Homo sapiens: one gene and its partners. The protein of the gene in region 1 interacts with the protein of each later gene in a biochemical or structural test. Each region holds a gene or a part of one and is shown on either strand. Other genes may lie near its edges.

Evidence for each region. Proteins that work in one complex are often made in the same cells at the same time.
Region 2: the proteins of ATF2 (region 1) and THRB form a complex in vitro, tested with the Homo sapiens proteins (one study listed by BioGRID and IntAct).
Region 3: the proteins of ATF2 (region 1) and UTF1 form a complex in vitro, tested with the Homo sapiens proteins (one study listed by BioGRID).

The regions. Positions count from the first base shown.
Region 1 is NC_000002.12:175,109,179-175,116,205, forward strand, and holds part of ATF2 (cyclic AMP-dependent transcription factor ATF-2), read right to left. Parts: intron 5,691-7,027; coding exon 5,512-5,690; coding exon of another isoform or gene 5,508-5,511; exon of another isoform or gene 5,065-5,507; intron 4,931-5,064; coding exon 4,816-4,930; intron 2,477-4,815; coding exon 2,390-2,476; intron 1-2,389. UniProt on the Homo sapiens protein: Transcriptional activator which regulates the transcription of various genes, including those involved in anti-apoptosis, cell growth, and DNA damage response.
Region 2 is NC_000003.12:24,141,848-24,148,874, forward strand, and holds part of THRB (thyroid hormone receptor beta), read right to left. Parts: intron 4,976-7,027; coding exon 4,828-4,975; intron 1,860-4,827; coding exon 1,654-1,859; intron 1-1,653.
Region 3 is NC_000010.11:133,226,175-133,232,061, forward strand, and holds UTF1 (undifferentiated embryonic cell transcription factor 1), read left to right. Parts: upstream 1-4,042; 5' UTR 4,043-4,114; coding exon 4,115-4,664; intron 4,665-4,792; coding exon 4,793-5,268; 3' UTR 5,269-5,384; downstream 5,385-5,887.

The DNA.
Region 1 (7,027 bases):
AAAAAAAAAAAAAAAGACTGTGTATGGTAGCTTTATTCACAATAGCTAAACACTAGAAACCATTAAAGTGTCCATGAGCAGGAGAATGGACAAAGAAATTGTGGTATATTCACACAATGGAATACCACTCAGCAATAAAAAGAAGCAAACTGTGATCACTCAACAACATGGATAAATCTGAGACATGCTGAGCTGGACATAAGAGTATAAAGTGGCTATTTATATGAAATTCTATAACTAATCTATGGTTACAAACATCAGAATAGATGGAGTGGACTGATCGGAAAGAGAGAAACTTTTATTCTTTTTAATTTAATTTCCTGATGACCTAAAAGAAACAGTTATTCAGGTTAAGTGTAAAGTTTAACAGTTTCTAAAAATATGGCCTACTCTTGTAAATAAAGGTATTTCTTAAAACTGGATTTGTTCCTTTTGAATTAATTTATAGAAAAAAGTCCAATGAATATGTAAAAATACTTTTAGATGCAGTACACAATAACAGGATCTCCTTTTAATATCTATATCTGCTCTATTCAGTTCCCACTGCATGGTAAATTAAATTGAATTTTTCATCAATCAGTATACTAAAATAGGAAGTGCAAAAAATGCCCCTGGTGAAGCTCTTCTGCTATCAAGTGAAGAAGATTCATCTTAGTATTTCCAAAGCTCTGACCTGAACATACTATGATGTGAAAAATTTCCTCCTTGGGTTTTTAGGGTCTTCTCTAACAATCAATAACCACCTAATTTTTATACTCTTCAACCAACTGCTGTTCATTCAGATAATATGTAAGTTTTATTGCTAAAACAGGGTGTCCTGTGCAAATTTCTGACTGATTGTCTGCACTAATGGAGAATAGCAGTAAAAATTTTTCAGGCCGGGTGTGGTGGCTCACGCCTGTAATCCCAACACTTTGGGAGGCTGGGGAGGGGGGATCACGAGGTCAGGAGTTCGAGACCAGTCTGACCAACATGGTGAAAACCCGTCTCTACTAAAAATACAAAAATTAGCCAGGCATGGTGGTGCACACCTGTAATCCCAGCTACTCAGGAGGCTGAGGCAGGAGAATTGCTTGAACCCAGGAGGCGGAGGTTGCAGTGAGCTGAGATTGTGCCACTGTACTCCAGCCTGGGTGAGAGAGCGAGACTCCATCTCAAAAAATAAATAAATAAATAAATTCAGCTCTGCAATATGTTTTAGCATGTAAAAATTTGTATTTAGTATAGTGCCTAGCAAATAACTGAAGCAAATAGAAGGTGTCTAATAACTACTAATCTATTGATTTCCTAAGGATACATTAATTAATTGCTGTTGTTAGCCCTATTATGATATAGAACGTTAACATCTACCCAATTAATCGATGTTATTAATTAACTGACATTATTGTATTATAACACAGCAAGGAGAATTACACTGATTTTTATTTTATTTTATTTTATTTTTGAGATGGAGTTTCACTCTGTCACCCAGGCTGGAGTGCAATAGTGCGATGCTGGCTCACTGCAACCTCGGCCTCCCGGGTTCAAGCAAATTCTTGTGCCTCAGCCACCCGAGTAGCTAGGATTACAGGCATGCACCACCACGCTCGGCTAATTTTTGTATTTTTAGTAGAGATGGGGTTTCACCATGTTGGCCAGGTTGCTCTCGAACTCCTGACCTTAGGTGATCTGCTCACCTCAGCCTCCCAAAGTGCTTGGGATTACAGGTGTGAGCCACTGCGCCCGGCCCTGATTTTCTTTAAAAATAGAATCGTCAGATCTTCTACTAAGAAAATTAGAACGTTTATAGGATTTAGGGTTAAGAAGTACCCCAGAAACCAAAGCTTAATCTTTTTATTTTACAGATGAGGAAATGCAATCTCAGGAAAGTTACAGTTGCTTAATTAAAGGTAGTGAATAGTGGAGTTAGGATTAAAATTAAAATTAAAATACACATCTAAACATTAATTTAATAGCATCCAAACAGCACAACAGAAAAAAATGGTTTTATCATGTTTGCTAACTTGTACACTATTTCAGAATTCTTTTTAATACTGTTAAAACCACTCATCATTATTAGCAGCACTGCCTTCAGATGATCACATCTAGTTTCAGATGTAATACTCCTATTTTCCACTAGGAGGAGAAAAAGCCACAAGAAAAAGCCAGACAAACAACAAGTGACAAGAAACAGAACTTCTAATCTGCCACTAATTTTAAAGTATCACTAACTACTCACTATGCTAAAGGAAGATTTCTTTTTTCAAATTTTGTGGTTTATCTATAGTATAAAACAGTCCGTAACTTTATAAAAATGTGATCTAAATTGTGCATTTGAAGCAGGCTTTAGTGAAAACATTAATTCAAAACAGCCTCAAGCAATGTACAGAACAAATAAAATCTGGCTTACCATTTTTGCTTCTGACTGTACTGGTTGGGGAGAGGAAGGACCTGGGATTCCTGGAACACTAGGCACCATGGTGACTGGTCGAACGAGCTATGCATGACATAAGGAAAAATAATTGCTAGAGAATATATTCAAAATGAGATTTGTACTTTACTGCTGTTGTAATAATTTGAGACTTTAAGAATCAGAACATTGTAAATTTATCACCAGCTGATTTTATCTCTATACCAAATCCTTATTTGGTCTTATATCCTGACTTATCCTTCAAAAGTTGTCAATTTCTGAGACGTGTGCTTTCCTAATTTTCAGTTTCTACAATTTCTTTCTTAATGGTCCCTGTTAGAAATTCATAATATTCAAAGTGATTAATGCAAAAATTCTCAAAGATCTGTCAAACTTCCATTTTGAATATGAAAGGAAGAATGTCAAAACTTGTGACACTTAGGCATAAAAAATAATTTCAACAATGAATTTTGCTTTTCTAAAAATATATACAATGAATTTTCTTATACATACCACATAATAACAAATAACACACTGTAATAATTTCTGAAATAATCTGTAACAGGTTTTACCATTTTGGTTTTTTCCTTTTTTTTCTTAAACCTAACACTGAGTGAACACAGTTACTGTATAAATAAAGCATATCTTTTCTTTCATTTCCGGTTGCTTTCATCACTAGGTACATGTAACAGGATAATCAGAATCTCAAAAACAAGGCAAGAATGTTTCCCTCCTCAAAAAAATATTCTCAGTAAAGAGGAAGCAGATACCTTATATCTGAGTCCTTACAAAGTCTCTCAAATAATGCATTTTGAACAAAGTTCTTTTTAAAGAAGGCACATTATCTTGAAATTACGTCAATCAATGCTAATTTTGGATAGTTTGAAAGATCACGTGGAAGAATTAGTTAATTAAAAAAAGATATAAATATCAAACATTAATCCTAGTAATATTCTTGGGGGTAATCTCACCGAAAGTGTTGGAATGTTACTATAAGTAAGCTTTTAAAAATAAGTTTTATTTTTTATTATTTTTGAGACAAGGTCTTACTTTGTTGCCCAGCCTGGAATGCAGTGGTGCAATCTCGGCTAACTACAGTCTCAACCTCCAGGCTCAAGTGATCCTCCCACCTCAGCCTTCTGAGTAGCTGAGACTACAGGTGCTTCCATCACAACTGGCTAATTTGTGTTTATTTTTTGTAGAGATGGGGTTTTGCCATGTTGCCCAGCCTGGTCTTGAACTCCTGGACTTAGGCAAGCCACCCACCCTGGTCTCCCAAAGTGCTGGGATTACAGGCATGAGCCACTGCACTTGGCCTAAAAATAATTTTTAAAAGCTACACTGTAAATGATTACACTGTACTGATCAGTAACAAGCATCTTAGAAGGTAAAAGAAAAAACTATCTTTTTATTACATAAATAAGTACCTAATGCTTGGTGTAAGATTTCCAGGGAGAGAATAATAGAGAGATTCATAAAGTAATATCGTAAATGATTTAGATGAAAAAGAAAATACTGTGTTCTGGAAACTGTGCTAGATGTCTCAAAAAGTGGTTCTCAGGATGAAAATTTGAATGTCAAAGACATAACTGAAGAGTTTGTTTGAATAAAACTGTTTTATGTAATGTAAGTAAGAAAAAAGCAATTTTCTAACACACATTATTCCAAACAATGTGTTTTTAAATGTTCATTAAACTATTACTTTTTTTTTTTTTTTGACTTGGGGTCTTGCCCTGTCATCCAGGCAGGATCCATAGCTCACTGCAGTCTCAAACGCCTGGGCTCACACAATCCTCCTACCTCAGCCGCCCAATACGCTGGGATTACAACAGGCATGAGTTGCCATGCCTGGCCAAACTATTAAATATCATAAGTAGATAGTTAACTATTTTGTCTACGTCTTTCAAAATTTATATATTTAACACACCCCTCAAAAAACTTTTTTGCGGGGTCTTTTCACAGGGAAAGTGAAAGATTATTTTTCTAGAACATTTACATTTTAACATGCTGGGCTATCAAAGATTCTACAAACCCTACTTGACCACAAAAATTCAGAGTGTGTCTTTATAAACAATTTCCATACTAATAGAAATACCACAGAGTTACCTGACAAGTATTCTAGTACAAATATCTTTCTAAAATTTGAAATCTGTGTTAATATTTGAATGCTACAAGTCCAGTCAAATTGATATGGGTTGAATAAGAAGATCTCAGTATAAAAAAAAAATTAAGGTTTTGGGGAGAAGAGAAAAAATAGCTATACCTTGAATGGTATATGCTATTACAATGATAACAAATAAATACTATCAACTGCTAATCAATATTATGTTAAATTCAATTTCATAAGCCAGTCAAGCAGCCAACTTTATTTTCTGACTACAAAGATCAGTTTTGCGATAGAGATTTAAATAGTCTAACTTTCTTACTGGGACTGCAGCTGGAACATGCACATTAGAACTTGTAATTGATGCAGGAATAGCAACAGGCATGGTTTGTCCATTAGGAAGATGTAACAGAAGAGGAAATGGGCCTGGTACAGGGCTAAGAAAAACAAAAGAAGAGAAATTTTAAAAAAGAGATTCATACCAACTGTCTCTTAAAAATACAATAGTATTTTTACTCCTATAATCATATCATTTAAAAATACATTTTCTAACCACAGCAAAGCAAATAGCAAAATTTAATTATTTTTAATTGCATCTTAAATGCATAACCTGTGTAGCAGTATTGAAAAGAAGAGAAAAGTTATGGATTTACTTAGGACAATCTCCAATTTGTAAAATGAGAAAAACTGTCATCAGAGAGCTCTTGGGAGCTACCAGTAAGAACTGAAAGAAATGGAATCTGGTGATGCAGTAATTTTATATTTTGTGTGAAATAGCATGAAAATAAGACTATCTTAAATTCACATTCTATATTTGTTTTTAGTTGTATTTATCTCCCACTCTGTTAGTTAATATTTATATTAAAGAAGACTACGCAAGTACTTTTTCCAAAATTCGAAGCATGCACACACATACAAAACTAAGATCTTAGTTTGAATAATCAAATGTCTTAGGAAAAATCATTACAAAACAAACTTAATTCATGTATATGTTCAATGATTGGCCTGAATCACTTACACAATTGGCCTGTTAGAGGATGGTGCCTGGGTGATTACAGTACTTGAGGTTGGTGAAGGTACTGCCTGCTGAATAATTACACTTGAGTCAGAACTTGTAAGCAGCACATTGGGAACCTGTAATGATGCTGGACGAACAATAGCTGATGTGGGCTGTGCAGTTTGTGCCAATGGTACTTCCTATTTAACAATGAGATAAAAAAGGGTGGCATTTAAAAATACAAATCATGTACCTTAGTGAACAGAATGTAACACACTTCTAAAAGCATCTACAGAATAATAACTGCTAAAAGCAAATTAATATCTCAAATTAATTAAAAGAACATTTTAGAAGAGCTGTAAAGATTCAAATGCAATGTTCAATTAATATTTTAATTTTAAAAAGACTCGTTTTTTTTTTTTCCAGTACAACTTGTTCTCCTATCAATCCAGAAATAAGTTAGACTGGGCAACTTGGCTATGATACCAAGAGAATTTTAATAAAAAATAAAAATATAATCCATTCTCAGAGAATCACAGAACTTAAAATCCAGAAGGGACTGTTTAGTCCCCCTCCCTCATTATACTGTATGAAGAGGAAACAGGTCCAGTGAGACTGTGTTATGGCTGATACAATTAAGTAACAGAAATAAGAACTTTTAGAGCAATACAAATAATTGTTAATTCCAGTTAGCTACCTCTTCTATATCAATAATTTCTTCATATCAAAAGGCCACGTAATACTGATATCTTGAATGTAAAATAAATAATTACCGGAGTGAACTCTTTCAAGTCAGGAAAACAGAATTTGTCAGCCAAGACCTTAAAGATGGTATTTCCTCTGGTTTTACAAATTATAGAACAAAAAGTTTTAAAAGATTTTACCCAGAACTCCTTAAATAGTCAGTGTAAAAATTGGGTCTATGGTGTTTTATGAATTGGCCTGTATGCTGCCACTTATCATCAAAATCTTATTAAGCTACATAGGAAGAAGGATAAAGTAGTAGTATTGTAACTTCATTTATTCAGTAAGTTGAGAACTTATGCTCCCAAGGACTAGCTCTCAAGGAAGAGACAATAAACAAGTAAAACAAGTAAGAAAATTTCAGATTGTAGTAAATGTTAAGTGTTACAGAATAATACGTGCAATGTAACAAAGGATGAAAGATTAGCTGAAGGTAAGGAAGAGTCAGTTAATTTAGACAGCATAGTAAGAATAGGTGAGCTTCTTTGCAAAAACAGCATTCGAACTGATGATAAAAGGATGAGGAGGAGAGCATTTCATTGTAGGGAGAAGGAAGCAATACCATATATGTCATGTCCTGAGGTAGGAAAAAGCTTTGAATATTTGATGAACACAATAGAGAGGCATGAGGTAAGGATAGATGCGTAGACAGGCCCAGATCAAAGAGGGCTTATGCCAAGGAGTGTGAATTATTTTAAATACAATGGTAGACCATTGAAAGATTTTAAGCAGGTGACATATTTAATGTATTAAAAGTCATCTTACAGAAAATGGATTGGAGGTAGAAGCAGGA
Region 2 (7,027 bases), on another chromosome or scaffold:
ATTTATGGGTGACACATTTGGGGAAAGGATGGATTTAAGTTTGCAATTAGGTAGGACTCTGTCTTGCTATGCCCCAAGTGTACTGTGTTAGAATTTGTCTATCAATCCAGAATTAGTGCTTTTGAATTTTCTGGCAGATATACCAGGGTGGGGTGAAGATGCAAGATCAAGGCACTGAGAGGCTGCTCCTCCAAAGAGCTGGGATCTTTCAGAGGCTTTTTGGGTTTGTGCAGGTGCCAAGATTGCATAGGGTAGTGGATAGAGACATAAATCCCGGAGCTGGCTGCATCCATCACCACTGTTTACCAGTTGTGGGAGCTCAGGCAAGTTTCCTCAACTTCTGTGTCTTACTTCTCTCTTCTGTAAAATGGAGATATTAACCACATCTACCTACAGGATTGGTATAGGAAGTTAATGAATGAAAAGCACTTAGAATAGTACCTGGCATATGGTAAAGGCCATCTAGGTATTTGCTGACATTGCTGTTAGTGAAAGCCATCAACAAAGTGCTGGCACTATTGTTTCATTACAACGAAAGTAATTGTGTCAGTACAGGTGAATTATGTATAAGCCTTTTCTTTCCAAAACTTCCTTTAAGGTTGTTGTTATGTTGTTTTAAGAAAAAGATCCACTATCTCATTGTAATGTTAATGTTGAGGTACAAGGATAATTATACCACTATATCTTCTTGTTCAGATGGGGAAGTACTCTAATGTGTCCTAGGGATACAAATGAAACCACAGAATATCTGTTGTCAGGTAGGTACTTGAAAAGGGTTTTATATCATAAACTAAGAGCAGAGTCAGTCTCTGAGATGGTCCAGCACTAGTAGGGCACGTAGTCTTTCTAATGAGGTGGGTGGAGAGCCTGGACTTGGAACCAGAAGACCGAGTTGGTTTTGGTGCCTGGCTTTTAGCAGTGCGATCCTGGGCAAGCGGCTTAAGGCCTTGGGCTTGGTTTGCATGTCTGTAAAATGGGGATAGTAATTCCAGCTTACCTCAAAACACTATGAAGTCTGAATAAAAAATGAATGGGAAGAATTTTCACAACTGGTAATTTTTATAAGAATATTAAACATCAATATTGCAAGGGTCTGGAAGGTCTTTTTTCTCTACACACTCGTGCCCACCAACCCTATCCCTACTCCCTCATTCCCATTGCCCTTCTTGAGTCAAGCTCATTTAATTTAAGCTAAAAAATTTTGACTTCTGTTGACATAAAAATATACTTGAGGCCTAGAGGCTATTATAAAGGGAATATTTGGGATTGAGTTCAGGGACTAAATATGTATATACTGGGCATCTAAGGAAAGAAATGGGTATAGAAAGTAAAAGATGGCAGACAAAACATTTTACTAATTAGTTGGTCTGGGAGTGGTCTTTCTAACAGTAAAAGCAAACTGATATAATGTGGCCTAAGAAACTGTTTTAGAATTCAGCAAATCACAAAGTAGATGGTAGGAGTGGCCTTTATTCTCACACAGACCTAGACTCAAATCCTAGCTTTGCAAGTTACTCAGCCTCTCAGAGCTACGGTTTCCCTATCAGTAAAATGAGGCAATAACACCAGTATCCCAAGGTGATGAGGACTGAATAAATTGAGGTAGAAAACACTGGCATATAAGTGAAACTGATCTGTGCAAGGAAGCCTTACCAGGAATTTCCGTTTTTGCTTCCAGTGGCTGCCTTGGGCGTTGGTCGCCACATGGGCTTCGGTGACAGTTTTGATGAGCTCCCATTCCTCGTCTGTGGGCTCTGGCTTGTGCCCGATGGACTTCTGCAGCTCTTCCCGCCGTCTTTTCTCCCGGTTCTCCTCTATCAGCTTCCTCTTGGCCAGCCTCTTGCTGTCATCCAGCACCACTGGGAGGGGGAGAAAGATGAGACAAGGCACACAGATGCTCCCAAGATACACAGCAAGCTGCACTTCCTGGAGCCTCAGGAGTGGGACCACTGATGCACAGATGGCTTACTGGGTCCTTCGGGGTGGGTCACACTGGGACAGTTTCTCTCCTCACCAGCAAACTGCCATTGACTAGTCTTGTCCAACATGGTCTCTAGAGCCAAACTCCCCATGACCGGCCAGCTTTTCAAAACAAAGTCCCCAGAGAACCTAGACACTGCGCACTCCAACTCCACAGAAGGTGGTTCTAAAACAGAGTGAAGCAGAGAGGTAAAATCCATACTACCCACAAGATCACAGAGAAATCTGTCCAGCCAGTCATCCGAATTCACTCTCTGGGTTTCTGTCCTCCCCGCTTCCCCTAAAACGGCTCTTAGTAAAGAGAACTTCAGGTTAAAGAAACGTTATGGAATTAAAAAAAGAAACGTTATGGAGCAGTAAGTGGGAGGCTCGTGATCCCTTTTTTTAAGAGGAAAAAGGACCCCAACTCTTCATGGCTCCCTTAAGGGCTAATTGGAATGTGGCTGGGCCTCACCTGGGCCTCAAGGTACTCACTGTACATTATTCTCTACCTGGTCCACCCTCAAGGGTGGTTAAAGAGTCCAGGCTTTGGAATCTAGAAAGACTTGGGTTTGAATTCTGATATTATTACATTCTAGCTGTGTGACCTCTGGCAAGTTCCTTAGGTTCTCTGAGCTTTCATTTCTTCCTATACAAAATGGGCTCAATAATACCCACTTCACAGAGTATTCAATGTGATAATGCATTATAAGTGCTCAGTAAATGCAGTCCTGACTTCTATCATTTGGGTGAAAGGAAAATCAGAAGGGCAGGTAACAAGAAACCTATATTTCTGTGGTCAATTTCCAAAACCAAAACCGTTTCACTAGACTTGGTAACTATCAATGGAATGGAAAGGCTCAGGTTTTACATTGCAGAGTCATAGTATTTTAGAACTGGAAGGGAACTTAGACGTCATCTAGTCCTACTCTGTCTTTTCACAGAAAGAAGAAGAAATTGATCCAGAGAGGTCGTGACTTGCCTAAAGTCACAGAGCAAGTTAATGGCAGAGCCAAGGCAAGACCCAGGACTCCTGACTCCAGTTCTACGACATCACTGTCCTAGGGCCATTTCTTGATGAAGGTGTGACCTGGTAGGAAAAGAAAAAAAGCAGACATAGCAAGAGAAGGAGAACCAAGGTGCCTAGCTAGTCTCCCATTTAAATATTCTAATTTAAAGAGAATATTAAATTCCAGACCATTTAGATTTGATTGGATTGTCAAAGTCATGTGAGCGCTTACAAATGAGGAAAATATGAATGAGCCCTGTTAAGTCATTTTGGTTCAGTTACTAAAGGGAAAGGAGGAATGGTAATAATACCCTCAACCCCTTCCCAAATGCTTCCGGTGTGCCAGGGACTGTTGTATTTGATGAACATTATCTAATTTAATCTTGAAAACAACTCTACAAGGTAGGCAATGATTTCACAGAAGGAAAATCTCAGCTTAATTCCAAAGGTCACACAGCTAGTAAGTGACAGATCTGGGACTCGAACAGAAGTTTTTCTGATTAGAAAGCCTGAGCTCTTAGAATCCCTCACAAGCAAGTAAAGGGCACTCAAAATTTATTTCCATACAGTCTAGATTAACACTGAGTTTTTAAACCTCATAGACACTAGTATCTTAAACTTCTCAATAGAACACTGAAATAGATAATCAATAATAAGTTTGTCATAGTGGCATATCTAAGTATTTGGCTGTAAGTCAATCATATTCACATATCCCTATCAGGCATATTGTTGGCAAGGGCTAAAGGCCTTTAAGAGATAAAGATAAAGAAAATACTCAGCCAGAGGTGGGGATTAACCCAGGATTTCCAGCCTAACACTCTAACATAACCCTCTTCCTTTTTAAAGATTCTCCATTCCTTCTTCTTTAATGGGCAAACCAGAACATTTCACAGATTTTTTTTTCTCAGTGAAAGAACTCTATTTCTCACATAAAATGTGAGTCATGATTACTTCTTTCATCAGGAAAAATCCTCACTGTATTTTCTTTTTTCTTTCTTCATTTTTTATCTTTCTTTTTCTTTTTAATTTTTAACTAATAGTTGGAATCTCTCACTGATGTGCAAAAAATTTATGCCAGTAGAATCATTAATACTGATGCCTGGCAAAAGGGAGGCCACACATTCTGAATGACATGATTCTTATTTTTATGATTAGATTAATTAAAGTGACTGGTGTAAATCCCTCGCACAGTGTGGGGAGAAGAGACCCCAAGGGCTAATCTCGCCACCATATGCTGTAGCACTTTGAAAACTGGGTAGGACGACTTCAGCTCGGAATGTCTTTATTGCTAAAAATATAACAAACAACCAACTGCAGGATGACTCATGCAATAGCACTCAACTTTGCATTCTTCAGAAATTTCTGAACACGATGTTTTCTGCCAGCGCCCCATCTCCAAAAATGTCCATAAAATAAATTCCTGTCTTTGCTCTTGAAAAAATATTAGGACTAGTCCCTGAGGCTCTACCCCATGTGAACACTGTGTATAGAATGATACCTTATCAAGGTAAATGGACCAGACCTCTCATTTGTAATCTCTGTCTCAAACAGAGTGTTGCTAACAACTAGGCCTGCAAATGTGATAGGGATAATTTAACTGCATTTCCTCCTCCATCATCCATACTTTGACAGTTAGGAGGTGGTATGACAGGGTAGGATGGAACCCACCCAGCAATGGCTCCCACCTCCCTTTCAGGGCAAGCCTGGATGTGGGGAGTGAGGGGTGTATGCGAAAGTAAGGTATTCCCTTCTCTGTCTTCTTGGGTTCCTGCCTTCTTTTCTGCCCAGTCGATCTCCTTGAACCAAACTGTTTCCTAATCAACATTCCTTGAATATGAAGCAAGTGAAGATCTACTTACAATCTGTTGCCATGCCAACATAGATGCATTTCTTAAAGCGACATTCCTGGCACTGATTTCGCGTGACTTTGTCTATGACACATTTTCCTTCATATTTACAGGAATAGGATGGATGGAGATTTTTCTGAATGGTTCTTCTAAAGAAACCCTATATGAAAAACAAAGACCCAAGACAACAGTTTCATATTTTCTTGAAATCAGTGATTCTGGAATTTTGTGTCCATATAACTATGAGATGAATCGTTTTGGACCTTAACCTGTTTCTAGGCCTCTAGCTCCACATATTCAAATATAAGACAGTTGGCCCAGAAGGATCTAGAGAGTTCTAAATCTGAGCTGATGATGCCATAGGACTACAGAGTCAACACCTTTTTTTTTGGTCTTTATTCAAGGAAAAGAGGCTAGTAGGAACATCTAGCGCTTGTTTTTATTTTTTCTAAATATTGAATATATAAGTAAATTATACTGTTCTATTTCATATACTGACATAATTGTGTTGCTAAATTAAGCTATGAGGAGTTTTGCTACTTTATACTGAGTAATAAGAGAGCTCCAAGACCAAGAAGAAAGTGAAAAAAATGAAAAGACATGGATACTTGCAATACTTTATTAATTAAAAATCTAATAATTTAGTAATTAAACAGATGTACTAGCTGGCTTCCTGGATTTAGTTTAATACTTGTTTTTGAATCTTGAGACAGCCATGATCAGCTCACTTAGCCTTTCAAACAATAGGACTCAGGGAGTAGAACGCTCCAGGTTTTCTACCAAGTTTTTCCCCATAGCTCATTGCATTGAGGTTTTCCTTTTATAACACTCTTTCTTTGGTATCTGTAGACATACACCTACAGGTTCAATGATTCTTCCTTTCTTAAGGCATGAGAGAGCACCTCTGTAGCATCTGGGGACACTGTTTAGTTCTAGGTTTGGGTGACTTAGGTAATATTCTCAAGAATGTGCAATACTAGAATTTTTCTGGACGTGATCCTCAAGTTGAGGCAACTGTCATCTGTATTGTAGAAGTTAATAACAGCAGTGAGCACTTATTGTGAGGGCACATTGCTAAGTGCTGTAGAAACATTCAATATCCTTCTATCTTCCCTACAATCATGTAAAGGAGGTGCTCTAAATATTTCCATGGTAGGGATTAAAAAAGTAAACCTCAGACAGGTTAAATCGCTTGCCCAAATCACATGGTAAGTACATGTGGGAACTTCAGGTAGGATGGAAACCACCCAGCAATGACCCCCACCTCCCTTGCAACCCAGGAGCGGCACTCCACATCTTACTTGCTTAACTGCTTATATGATGTATAATGAAGTAAATTTTACTGTATTACTTGAATGTTTTAGATCAACAGATTATAAACAGTCCTGCCCCAGCCACTTAAAAAGTTCATTTTAACTGTTGGTAGGATAACAAGGCAAAATGAGTGTTTTAAAATGTAAGAAATTAAAAAAAATTTTTTTTGAGACAGAGTCTCGCTCTGTCACCTAGGCTGGGGTGCAGTGGTGCGATCTTGGCTCACTACAACCTCCACCTCCAGGGTGCAAGTGATTCTCATATCTTAGCATCCAGAGTAGCTGGGATTACAGGCGTGTGCTACCACACCTGGCTAATTTTTGTATTTTTAGTAGAGACGGGGTTTTGCCATGTTGGCCAGGCTGGTCTCGAACTCCTGGCCTTCAGTGATCCGTCCTCCTTGGCCTCCCAAAGTGCTGGGATTATAGGCGTGAGCCACCACGCCTGGCTAATTTTTGTATTTTTAGTAGAGATGCGTTTTTGCCATATTGGCCAGGCTGGTCTCCAACACCTGGCCTCAAGTGATCCGTCTGCCTCCGCCTCCCAAAGTGCTGGGATTACAGGCATGAGCCACTGTTCCTGGTGGCAAAACAAGTTTTGATGGATGTCTTCTGCTAAGGCCTAAAGGGGTCCTCTAACTTTGCTAGATAAATGGTGGGAAATATCAGTTGATCTAGATTCAGCCCAAATTTTTATGATCCCGGTTAATGTTCTTTGGCTTTGATTATATACGTATACCCTATTGCATATTCCTCCTTCAGACACAAAAGCTCTTTCTTATTATGAAAATGCCCGAGGTAGGATTTTATATTGGGCAAAGCAGAATAAAATAGAAAAACATCAGGAATAACTGAGACTAACAGACTTGATTTTGGGGCGTATATGCAAATCCCTTATC
Region 3 (5,887 bases), on another chromosome or scaffold:
GGCGTCCTGGCCACGAAATGCAGTTCACTTTTTTTTAGGCTTTTATATGGATTATGTTTTGCTGACCCACGCCCGCATTTTCAGATTTTGTATCTAACAGACAGTGCTCAGTGCAAATCAACATTCCAGCGGTCAGGACTGACCCCGGGGCAGCACTGGGCTCAGGCTTCAGCGCGACTGTCCGCATGGCTCCCTCCCGTCCTGGCACCAATTTCTGAATAAAGTCCTTTCTACCAGCTGCTGCTGTGTGGTCACTCTGCGGGTCCCCACGGTGACCTCTGCAGGTCGACACGTTTTCCTTCATGGCCGCACGAAGGCCCCTTACAGGTGCTCACAAGGACTCCAGGTGCGAGATGTGCTCAACCCAGGACTGAAAACGAATCTGCCGGTCCACAGCGACGCCCTCTGATGCCGCAGAGAAAGGCCCGGGCCTGCCAGACGTGTGTCACAACTCAGGCCCCGCCAGGAGGAAAGCTACCGCCAGCACTCCCAGGCCGTGGGAACAAGCAAACGCACCGGCTGGGGCAGGAAACACTTGCTTCTGGTTGTGACTGCAAACAGCCTAAAAGAACGGACTCCCGTAACCACGCTCCTGTGTGCGCACATCCAGGCTCGCCCTCCATTGACAAAAAGGACGTCCCTCATGCTGGATGTGCAGTGTCTTCATCCAAGATCAGGACGGGCGTCTGTCCATCAGTTCTTACAGGCTATTTGCACAGACCCACGGCTGTTCTTGGGTCAATCTGCGCTAAACTCTGCCCAACCCAGCCAGTTCCCACCTGGCAGCCCTGTGGGCAAGACAGAGCTGGGTCCCCCGTCATCACGGTGCAAGCTCGCCGTAACTCTGACCACAGTGGAGCAGGAGGCCAGGACGGGGAGCTCCTGCAGGTGGGGCTTGTGGCCCGGGAAAGGACACTCTCACGGTTGTCACAGGGTAAGACTGGTGGACACCACTCAGGGAGGGGCTCACAGCCAGGGCTTCCAATGGTTTTGGGGTTGTAAACTGTGGATGCTTTTGGGAAAAGAGCTGATGGGTCTTTCGGGAAGTTCCCGTGATGAACGGTGCGGTTATCCGCCTGGAGGGAGGCCCAGGAGAAGCCGAGAAGACAAGATGGTGGAGTCCAATTGTGCTGGACAGGAGCTGCCCGAGACAGGGGGCCCTGGTCCTGGTCATGTGTGCGTCCTCGCCCCCACGCCATGCAGGCCGGACCCCTCACTGCAGTGGCTCCAATAAATTCAGCTCCGCTGAGCACAGGACTTTTCTCTTAGAGAGCTGACAGCCAGCAACCTCATGAGCCTCGCTTCTCGGCGCCATCCACTCCCCGGCTCTGTCCCCCACGCCGCCATCCACTCCCCGGCTCTGTCCCCCACGCCGCCATCCACTCCCCGGCTCTGTCCCCCACGCCGCCATCCACTCCCCGGCTCTGTCCCAGACGGGTTCAAGGCAGGCTGTGCTGTGCACTGCAGTGCCACTGTGGGCTAGACAGTCTGCGCTGGCGTCCTGTGCACCATCATCTCTGATCTCCACCCATCAGATGCCCCCAGCACCCCCAACCCTCAGTTATTAAAAATCTTTTTTTTTTTTTTGAGACAGAGTCTCACTCCGTCACCTAGGCTGGAATGCAGTGGTGCGATCTTGGCTCACTGCAACCTCCACCTCTTGGGTTCAAGCGATTCTCCTGCCTCAGCCTCCTGAGTAGCTGGGACTACAGACACATGCCACGACACCCAGCTAATTTTTTGTATTTTTAGTAGAGACGGGTTTCACTGTGTTAGCCAGGATGGTCTCAATCTCCTGACCTCGTGATCCGCCCGCCTCGGCCCCCCAAAGTGCTGGGTGTCAACAGGCTTGAGCCACGCGCCCAGCCTTTTTTTTTTTTTTAGATCCACCTCCCAGGTTCAAGCAATTCTCCTGCCTCAGCCTCCCTAGAAGCTGGGATTACAGGTGCACATCCAACGCCTCGCTAATTTTTGTATTTTTAGTAGAGATGGGGTTTCACCATGTTGGCCAGGCTGGTCTCAGACTCCTGACCTCAGGTGATCCGCCTGCCTCAGCCTCCCAAAGTGCTGGGATTACAGCCACCACGCCTGCACGCCCCCCTTTTCTTTTTAAGACAGAGTCTTGCCCTGTCACCCAGGCAGGAGTGCAGTCAGGTCATCACGGTACACTGCAGGCTTAACCTCCTGAGCAAAAGGACATCCTCCCGCCTCAGCCTCCCAAGTAGCTGGAACTACAGGCACCTGCTACTACACTCGGCTATTTTTTATTTTTTTGCAGAGATGGGGGTCTCACTATATTGCCCAGGTCAGTCTCAAACTCCTGGCCTCAGGAGATCTGCCCACCTCAGCCTCCCAAAGTGCTAGGAATACAGGTGTGAGCCCCGTGTATGAGTGCCTGGCCAGGAACCACAGATTTCTTGAGAAGTGTCTGAAAAGCTGATTCTAGGACCAGGGTCGGCAAAGGACCAGATGAGGCAGGAGCATCCTGTATTGCCAGGGAGCTGGGAGGGGGTTTCAAAAGGACAAGGAAGAGAGGAGGAGGTGAGAAGACTTTCAATGGCCAAAGCAGGAACGATATGCGCAAAAATACAAATAAAAGCCCGGCACAGGGGCTCACTCCTGTAATCTCAGCACATTGGGAGGCCCAGGCAGGAGGATCACTTGAGCCCAGGAGTTCAAGACGAGCCTAGGCAACATAGCAAGACCCTGTCCCTACAAAAAGTAAAAAAAAAAAAAAAAAACTAGGTGCGTGTGGTGGTGCACACATGTAGTCCCAGCTACCAAGGAAGCTGAGGCTGGAGGATCACTTGGGCCCAAGAGTTCAAGGCTACAGTGAGCTGTGATCAGGCCACTGCACTCCAGCCTGAGTGACAGAAAGAGACCCCATTTGTAAAAAATAATAAAAACAAACAGAACTTTTAAAACAAATAAATAATAACAGCATCGGGTTATGACCTAAAGGATAAAATAAATATACACGAGCCCACACTGTAGAAATAAATGACTGAGTAAATAAATCAACAGGCAGAGAGACAAACCTTACAGAAGAATCCCAGAAAATACAGACACCCCTCCAGGAGGTGGGGCCTAATTACTCTCCCCATGAGTTGGGGATGGGCTGAGGGGCCGGATTCCAGTGACCAGAGCAGGGATGGAAAGGCGATACCTGAAGACTGCAAGAGTGGCAGACAGTCCGCACCCCAGCACGGAGCAGACCTCACCGGTGCTGAGCCACAAGACAGGAGGGGCGAGACTCCACCCCTGCGCCTTCCTTCCTAAAACCCACCACCCTAGTCGGATCACAGGAAGACACCAGGCAAACCCAAGTCGAGGAACATTCAACAAAACACCTGGCCCGTCCTCAACCGTGTCGAGGACGCGAGAAGCTGCCACGGCCCAGAGGAGACCCAGGAGACAGAAGGACTCGGCGCCGTGCGGCAAGGAGGAAGAGCATTTAATAGGAAGAGAATTTCCTCCTCCCAGGGATGCTGGCTGCAGACGCGCTGCAGATGGAAGAAGTTCAGATTTTAAAAGCTACTTCTGCGAGCGCGTGAATTCCGACACCCATTCCCGCGGCTGGCGTGGCTTCTCCTCGGACCCATCCCCTGGCCTGGCGACTCCCCCTGGGACCCGGGTCGGTCCTCCGGACCCCTCGCGTGCAGGTGCTGAGCCCGGGCGGGGGCGGCGGGGGCGGGGGCAGCACTGGGGGCCGGACAAGGGGGCGCCAGCGCCTTCCGGAGCGGGAGGGGCTCCGCACACACCTCGACGGGGGCGGGGGTAGGCTCGGCACAGGCTAAAAACGAGCGGAGCCGCCGGGGCTTAGGCATCGCGGCACCTCCGTTGAACGGGTCTAAGAACAGAACTCCTGAGGACCCTCCGTTTCCAACCGAAGCCAGTCTTTGCTCTGCGTCTTCCCGGCCGCAGCGCCAGGACCGACCCCTTAGGACCCGGCGGGCGGGGCGGGGCGCGCGGGGCGGGGCGGGGATGGTGGGAGGGTCGCGTAGACCCGGCTGGGACGGAGGGACGGCGGCGCGGGATGCTCAGAACGCGTGTGGGCGGCCCGGGCGGCGTCTGGCCCTCTCCCCATCCTCGCGCGCCGCGCCCCAGCCCCGGGATGCTGCTCCGGCCCCGCAGGCCGCCCCCGCTCGCGCCCCCCGCGCCGCCCTCGCCCGCCAGCCCCGACCCCGAGCCGCGGACACCCGGAGACGCCCCGGGGACCCCGCCCCGGAGGCCCGCCTCGCCCAGCGCGCTGGGGGAACTCGGGTTGCCGGTGTCCCCGGGCTCGGCGCAGCGCACGCCCTGGAGCGCCCGGGAGACGGAGCTGCTGCTGGGGACGCTGCTGCAACCGGCCGTGTGGCGCGCGCTGCTCCTGGACCGCCGCCAGGCCCTGCCCACCTACCGCCGCGTGTCGGCCGCGCTGGCCCAGCAGCAGGTGCGCCGCACCCCCGCGCAGTGCCGCCGCCGCTACAAGTTCCTTAAAGACAAGTTTCGCGAGGCGCACGGCCAGCCGCCCGGGCCCTTCGACGAGCAGATCCGGAAGCTCATGGGGCTGCTGGGCGACAACGGGCGCAAACGGCCTCGCCGCCGCTCCCCGGGGTCCGGGCGCCCCCAGCGCGCCCGCCGCCCGGTCCCCAACGCGCACGCGCCGGCTCCCAGCGAACCAGGTAGGCGGGGGACTGGGGGGCCAGGTGGGGCCGAGGACTGCGGAGGAACCGGGGGCTGCCGAGGGCTGCGGGGGAGGGGCGGGCGCGCCCCGCGAAAATCCGCCCGACCGCCTGCTCCGCGTTCCCAGACGCCACCCCGCTGCCCACCGCCCGCGACCGCGACGCGGACCCCACCTGGACGCTCCGCTTCAGCCCGTCCCCACCGAAGTCTGCGGACGCCTCCCCCGCCCCCGGCTCCCCGCCAGCTCCCGCCCCGACCGCCCTCGCCACCTGCATCCCCGAGGACCGCGCGCCCGTCCGCGGCCCCGGGTCCCCGCCGCCACCCCCGGCCCGCGAAGACCCCGACTCGCCGCCCGGCCGCCCCGAGGACTGCGCGCCCCCTCCGGCCGCGCCCCCGTCGCTGAACACCGCCCTGCTGCAGACCCTGGGGCACCTGGGCGACATCGCGAACATCCTGGGCCCGCTGCGCGACCAGCTGCTGACCTTGAACCAGCACGTGGAGCAGCTGCGCGGCGCCTTCGACCAGACAGTGTCCCTGGCCGTGGGCTTCATTCTGGGCAGCGCGGCCGCCGAGCGAGGGGTCCTCAGGGACCCGTGCCAGTGAGTCCCGGCTGCGGCCAGTCTCCCCTCTCCAGGCCGAGGCCCCTCCGCCCTGACCCCTCCTGCTGCCTTCCCACCCCCGTTCTTGGGTATGTTCAATAAAAGGATTGTTTTCCTAGAGTCCGGGCTGTGTAGGAGTGCGGGTCTGGAGACGGGGAGGGAGTGGCGCCCTGCAGTGCTGGGGCTGCAAAGGTCAGGGCAGGGTTGCGACGCTCTCATCACAGAGAGGGGCTCCCACTCGCTCCTAAGGTGTAGACAGAGCTCCGTGGGGCGCACCCAAATGTAGGCCGAGGAGGCCAGGCTCGAGGGTGGTGGGCGTGGTGCCTGCTGCCGGGTCCTGGTCACACACTCGGTTCTCAAGGCCACACCAGACTCTCCCTGCCCCTCCCGGGGAGCCCCACTGAGTAAAACGAAGTGAACGGGTGGGCTCCGCTGGGGGTCCGGAGAGAACCTGAGGCTGACCCCACCTCTTCACTCAATGCAGGGGTAGGGGTTAGAGTGGTCGCCTCCACACTGCCCAGCAGAGAACCCCCTTTGACCCAGGAGTAGCATGGGGGGTTCCGAAGGTCCTCCCATGGCCTCGGGCAGCCTTGGACCACCCGGCTGAACTCTCCCAGGTCCTG